2 linked regions of the Homo sapiens genome follow. The protein of the gene in region 1 interacts with the protein of each later gene in a biochemical or structural test. Each region holds a gene or a part of one and is shown on either strand. Other genes may lie near its edges.

Evidence for each region.
Region 2: of the proteins of CCNY (region 1) and CDK16, one has a biochemical effect on the other in vitro, tested with the Homo sapiens proteins (one study listed by IntAct).

What each region holds. Positions count from the first base shown.
Region 1 is NC_000010.11:35,563,509-35,567,008, reverse strand, and holds part of CCNY (cyclin-Y), read right to left. Parts: intron 987-3,500; coding exon 824-986; intron 1-823. UniProt on the Homo sapiens protein: Positive regulatory subunit of the cyclin-dependent kinases CDK14/PFTK1 and CDK16.
Region 2 is NC_000023.11:47,221,681-47,225,180, reverse strand, and holds part of CDK16 (cyclin-dependent kinase 16), read right to left. Parts: exon of another isoform or gene 2,921-3,500; coding exon of another isoform or gene 2,839-2,920; exon of another isoform or gene 2,801-2,838; intron 2,131-2,800; exon of another isoform or gene 2,086-2,130; coding exon of another isoform or gene 1,870-2,085; intron 1,630-1,869; coding exon of another isoform or gene 1,624-1,629; coding exon 1,422-1,623; intron 797-1,421; coding exon 663-796; intron 564-662; coding exon 438-563; intron 348-437; coding exon 291-347; intron 194-290; coding exon 79-193; intron 1-78. UniProt on the Homo sapiens protein: Protein kinase that plays a role in vesicle-mediated transport processes and exocytosis. Regulates GH1 release by brain neurons. Phosphorylates NSF, and thereby regulates NSF oligomerization. Required for normal spermatogenesis.

The sequences.
Region 1 (3,500 bases):
GAATTGTGGTGGCTCATGCCTGTAATACCAGCACTTTAGGAGGCCAAGGTGGGCAGATCACAAGGTCAGGAGTTCTAGACCAGCCTGGCCAACATAATGAAACCCCATCCATCTCTACTAAAAATACAAAAAAAAATTAGCTGGGCGTGGTGGTGCACACCTGTAGTCCCAGCTACTAGGGAGGCTGAGGCAGAAGAATCACTTGAACCCAGGGGGCGGAGTTGTGATGAGCTGAGATCGTGCCACTGCACTCCAGCCTGGGTAACACAGCAAGACTCCATCTCAAAAAAACCCAAAAAAACAAAAAACCTTTGCTTATTAAGTATAAAGTGATATTAAACTGGTTATTAAAAATATGAAGTGGCTGGCCAGGCACAGCGGCTCACGTCTGTAATCCCAGCACTTTGGGAGGCCAAGGCAGGCAGATCACCTGAGGTCAGGAGTTTGAGACCAGCCTGGCCAACATTGTGAAACCCCATCTCTACTAAAAATACAAAAAATCAACCGGGTGTGGTGGCAGGCACCTGTAATCCCAGCTACTTGAGAGGCTGAAGCAGAATTGCTTTAACTCGGGAGGCAGAGACTGCAATGGGCCAAGATCGCACCACTGTACTCCAGGCTGGGTGACAGAGCGAGACTCCGTCTCAAAGAAAAAAGAAGCAGAACAAATCATAATCAACTGCCCAGCTATATATCCTAGTAGCTCATCTTTATTTTACATCATGTAGTGGGGGAAATGATCAATGTGACCACATGCATCTCTGGTACTCAGATGATGTATTGGCAACACTGCACCACAAAACGCTGTTTTAAACCATCTTACCTCAAGCTTGTGAGCCCTCTCCCTGCTCAGGGGCTCCAAGGGAAAGCTCAGGTTGTTCGCTTCTGCCAGAGAACGAAGATCAAAATAATACTTGGCATAGACACTGGAAGGAACATTGATGTTGAACTGCAGCAATTCAAGAAACTGTCGCTCTAGCTCGTTCCTGCAAAGCAAAGACAAAAATAGCCTATGCTTAGCTGCCACACCAGGCCACGTGGCCTGCCAAGGCAAGTTGCTGGAGACCAGACTCCAGAAAACTGCATCCTCCAGGAAGACCAGTGATCTAAGTAAATGTCTGGTTAGACCACCATATTGGGATTAAAAGCCAAATCCACTTGATCTGGTGCCCAGAAGGATGAGGACTGGTTAACTGGGATCATCACCAGGAAGCGTTTCAGGGCGAATCACTTCACTGAGATCTAACACACACACAGCAGGCTCTGGCTGCAGGTCTCCGTGAGGACAGGCTGCTAACAAAGGGTGGATGCAGCAGCCAAGAGCTGCCACGTGGAGTCCAGTGAGGGCCCTTCCGCAGGGGCCCAGAGGAAAACACTCAGCCTCTGCAGACCTAGAGGACATTGGCTTCCTCGGTGGCCCCTCCCTACCTCCAGGGAGAAAAGAAGGGAGGAACTGTGTAGGGGCTTTCTTAGGCAAAAGGCAGGGATTATGGGGGGAGGGTGTCCAGTCTCTGCCTCAGTCTCTTAAAAAGAGAACTCACAAGCCGGGAAGAATGGAAGCAGTAGTTTCCACACTTGAGCACGCACCCCATCACCTGGTGGGCTTGTTAGAACAGACAGGGGGCTCCACCTTCACACTGTGGGGATCAGTAGGTCTGCAGTGGGGCCTGAGAATGTGCATTTCTAAGGAACTCCCAGATGATGGTGAGGCTGAGGCTCTTGCCCCGGGCCCACACTCTGAGAACCACTCAACTAAAAAGGTAGGTTGGGAGAGGAGGTGCTAAGATCCACCCTGCCAACCCATCTACATGTTGATGGAATGCTGGGAGAAATTCAAAAACTTCTACTTTAAGAACTTCTCATGTCAGCTATCTTTCAAATTAGGTTTATTTCTAGATAGTTCCTCTGGGTGGGGGGAACCTTCTCAGTGAGGGAACTATCTGTGGAGCACTGGTCCTGGGTCATGCACTCAGATTCAGCACGTTCTCCCCAGGAAGCCCCCAGGGGTGCCCACCCACAGGGTGCCCACCCACTGCACACCCTCCAGGAAACCTCCTGTCCTTGCCCACACTATGCAGCATGTGGCTGCTGAACTCAGCCTCTTGGGCTGTTCTCCTCATAGTCAGGAAGTGCAACATCTGCTTTTGCATGCCTGGCCCCCAGCACATGATCTCAGAAGGCTTCCCACAGCAGTGAGAGCTGAACTGAGGTGAGGGAAGCATGGAGCTCTGGCGGAGAGGAACCAGGGCTGAGGAGGGGGTGTTTCAGGCAGAGTGGGTCCCCTCCAACCTGCTGCAGGCAGCCAAAACACACAGTCACCATTTCCTGTGAGTGAAGCCAGGGCCCTAGTGCAGGGCCTCACCCTCCTGACCCTGATCCCAGCCTCGGCATTCTAAGTCATGTCCTGCCAACTCTGCTGAACGCTGAGGGTCTGGGTCTGAGCCTCACATGCAGGCACCATCCTGTCCTGAGTGATGTCCCGAGACCCCTATGGCTGTTCCCGGTGACTCATAGCACTCAGCTATGAAGGACTGAGGAGGGCTCCACACCAGCTCAAGTTGCTGTGACAAAGGACAAGAACAGTAAGGAGGCGGGTGGGGAGGCTGGGGCTGAGCAAGGCCAGTGGCTCTGGGGAGACATGAAGCTGCTGGGGAAAGGAGCACTGGGACCTGTGGGCAGGCGGCAAGGAAGGAGGCCCGAGGAAGGCCCATTCCGGTCTCTTCATCAGATGAAGAGCGTCACTGCTTGTTTCCACACAGCCTCGTGAAAAGAGTGATAACAAGCTCCAAATGTATTTACTGTACTAAATTTCATAGTTTTAAGAATTTAGGCTGGGTGTGGTCACTCACACCTGTAATCTCAGCACTTTGGGAGGCTGAGGCGGGTGGATCACCTGAGTTTAGGAGTTTGAGACCAGCCTGGCCAACAGGGTGAAACCTCGTCTCTACTAAAAATACAAAGAAAATTAGCCGGGCATGGTGGCACATGCCTATAATTCAAGCTACTCAGGAGGCTGAGGCAGGGGAATCACTTGAACCCGGGAGGTGGAGGTTGAAGCGAGCCAAGATTGCGCCATTGCACTCCAGCCTGGACTACAAGAGCGAAACTCTGTCTCAAAAAAAAAAAAAAAAAATTAGTCAGGCATGGTGGTGGGCACCTCTAATATCCCAGCTACTCAGGAGGGTGAGGCAGGAGAATCACTTGAACCCAGGAGGCGGAAGTTGCAGTGAGCCGAGATTGCCCCACTGCACTCCAGCCTGGGCAACGAGAGCGAAACTCTGTCCCAAAAATAAATAAATAAATAATAATTTACTTTGATTTGGGATAATTTTTACTTAAAACAACTTTTATTTATGCTTCATTTAAATGAGATTTAATAAGAGATCATCCTGTGAAATACTGGAATCCAGGTAAGACTTCAACAAAACGAAAGCGTCAGAGGCCCTGCTAAGGCCAGAACTGTCAAACGTCAAAGGAGCAAATCCCAAGTGAACCTGGGA
Region 2 (3,500 bases), on another chromosome or scaffold:
GTCTTTGTTCTCATTATGGAGTGTGTGCGCCAGGGGTGGGTTGGGGAAGCCTGGGGCAGATGGGATGGGGGTGTGTACCTTCCCGGATGGCGGTGCAGGGTGCCCCCTCTTCATGTTCCAGTCTGATCTCCTTGAGTGCCACAAGGTTGTCTGTGAGCTTGCTTTTGCCTTTGTAGACGGTGGCATAGGTACCCTGGAATGTGAGGAAGTGTGACAGGAGAGGTGCTATGAGATTCCAGGAGTTCCCACTGACCTTCATCCCCACCATGGGCCTCCTATTTGCCTCTCACCTCGCCCAGTTTGTCCAGCTTAATGTAGGTCTCCAGTTTCCCAAAGCCAATCTCAGACTGTGGGACAAATGAGGCAGGTTAAAGCTGGCTCAGGAGAAGGGTCTGGGAGAGAAGAAAAAGGAGAGGACGGGAACAGAAGGTGCTTACTAGGCTGACACGACGGAGGCGGCGGCTGAGGGGCTTGTCAAAGATGGGGCTATTGAGGGTCAGCTTCTCCAGGTAGCCCTCAGGCAGCCGGATGTCAGCTGGTAGTGATAGGCGCTTGTTGATGTCCTAGCAGGTAAGGCAAGAGAGAAACAGGATCATGAGCTCCACCTCCCCAGGTCCAACCCCCTTTTCCAGTTCCTCCACCATCCAGACGGGGTCAAGCACCTCAGTGGAGATCTTGCGTGGGGGATGGTTGCGCATACGCACTCTCACTGGAGACTGCACCTCATCCGAGGACGTGGCTGAAGCCTGGTCACTCTCCCCATCAGACCCCATCTTCAAGTCCTCGTGCACAATCTCTGGTGGCAGGGAGAGGGGTAGGGCAGGCCAGGTGGGGTCAGGAACCACAGGACACCCCATCCCCCACGAAACATATTCCATCATCACACATGTGTGCACGTGGCCCCCACAGGAAACCTGGAGTCCCTCGGGGAGAGGGTGATGTACCTGAGCCCAGGGAAGCTCAGGTACATCTAGGGCAGGTTGAACTGGGGGGTGGGGAAGCAAAAGTCACCTAGTGGAACCCTTCCTTCCAAGGGCAAGCTGAGCTCAGAGCCGGCAGCTAGGTGGTGGCAGGGGAAGCCAAGGGTCCTGGGAAGGCAGGCCCAGGGCAGGCAGGTACCAGAGGACTGAGGAGGCCATCATAGAGGGCAGAAGGGCAGAGGGAGCCTTGGGGCAGCTGTGACAGGCAAGGCACCTTCTGTCCCCCACCACGGGGCCTGGGCAGAAAGGCAAGAAGAGGAGCGCAGATGGACAGATAGACAGACGGTGTTGAGAGAAGATGGGAGGGAAGGGGGAGAAGAGAGCACATGGGGGGCAGAGAAAGGGCAGAAAATTTAGAGGAAAATGAGGAATGTGACCAGGAGGCAACACCTGGGAAGCAGCCTGGGGCCATATGGGAGAGGGGATAGCCAGTGGACCCACCTGGTGCAGAGCTGAGTGGGCCCCGTGCAGAACGAAGTTCCCCAGGAGCAGCACGTGTGGGGGCCTCTCCAGGGTCACTGCCGCCACCACCACCACTCTCATCCAGGCCTATCTGCTCAGGGGCACCATTGGTCTTGTCTATGCCTCGGCCACCTCGGAGTGTCATTGACAGCTGCCGTTTGATCTTCTTCATCCGATCCATGGCGATCTGAGCAAGGGACAAGGATGGAAATGGGTCTCTTATTAGCATTTGCTTGATCACCATGGGTTCCCTAAAGCCCACAGCCTAGCAGGGGGCACTGACATGAACTTGTCAGTGCTCACTCAACCACTATGGACCCCAGAGCCACTCAGGAGTTCTGGAAACCCAGCATGGATGGGGATCTTTGTCAGTACCTGCCCACCCACACAGCCAGCCCCACTGGGACCCTGCTCCTACGTAGCCCACCTGAGTTCTCAGATTTAGGTGGCTGATTGAGGGCAAGGGCCCTAACGATGGATTGTTGGGATCTAGGGGAAAAGCCCCACTGCAGGAGCAGAAGGCTCCATTGCAGATCTTCTCAGGTACAGCTGCAGTGATGGGCCCAGCCATGGGTCGGCCAGGGCGTGTGCCCAGAATTGAAGGATGGGTGACATGGTCTCGAGCACGGCCATAGAGTGGCATAGTTCCCCTAGCACCACCCTCAAAGGCCAAGGCAGACTATTCCCTGTGGCCACAGGGACCCTCTTCCTGACTTCTCTAGCACTCATCGTCATGACAACCACTGCATCATCCCATTCATCTACCCAGGTGGGGGGGGGGAGGGGAGCGTGTGTCAGGGTGTCCTGCCCAGACCCAACCACTGGGTGGGATTGTGTGGAGGGCGGGGGGGTCTCAGTGTACACCAGCTCTTCTCAGGGCTGCCAGAACGGTTTGATCAGGTTAGGACCCCTAGGGTCCAATCTAGACTTTTACAAGCCAAGTCACATTTCTCCTCTACTCAAGAATGTACATTTTTCATCACCCCAAATACACGCCCCAGTCCTCAATGTGGCCCACAGGTGTTTCTTTACCTCATTTGCCCCTATTGCCTCTTGCCCACGGCCCCCCCCCACCCCCACACCCCCCCGCCATCATTCCTAGTTGCTGTTCTGCAACCACACCCAGTAGAGTCCCACCTCGGGGCCTTTACACTGGCTGTTCCTGGTACCTGGAACACCCTTCCCCTAAATTTCGAAATGGCTCACTCCCCTCTCCCTTTGGGCCATTGCTCAAAGGTCACCTTTTTCATGAGGCCTCTGTGAATAACCCTATTTAAAATCTCAACCATCCCGAACTCCCTCACCTTGCCAGTTATCCCCCCAGCACTCATTACCTCCTCAGAAATGACACCACCTACTTATTGGTTTCTTTAGTCTTTACTGTCTATCTCCTCACCGCCACAACTAGAAGATCAGCTCCGCCAGGGTAGATTTCTGTGTTTAGGTCACGGCTATATCCTGAGGACCTGGAATAGTGACTGACACAGAGTAGATGCTCAAAAAGTGCTTATGGCAGAAATAAGTGAATCAGGGGGCTGAGGGCCTAGGACCAACCTCTGCTGAGGTGATGAGTCCCTGCTATTCATTGAACAACCCTAAACAAGGTAGCCCAGGGATGCTGGCATCGACAGGAAGATGACCTAGATGGATTGCTGAAGGGAATGGGGCCACCAAAAGGCTTAGGCCAGCCGTCTTCTGCTTCCTCTTGGGCTCTGGGCCAGCAAGGAGGGGGAAAGACCTGACCCAGGAACCATCTGGACTCACAGCAGGGCCTAAGATGGCCCTGGGCCCAAGGGAAGTAGAGCTAGATAGGAGGTCGAGGATGAGACTGGGGCTGGATTTGAGGAGAGAAATGGGTCATCTGCTACCTTGAAATCAGGTGCTTCCCCCAGCAGTTCTCGCCCCCACCTGGCTGAACTCACTATCCCCAGGAGGGGTAGGGGCCACCCTAGCAGAAAGACCTCAGATACAGGATGAGGTCCATCCATGGAGAACCCAGGATAACCACAAAACATCCTGACCTGGGAGGCTGAATACTGGGCCTAAGGCAAGGAAGGT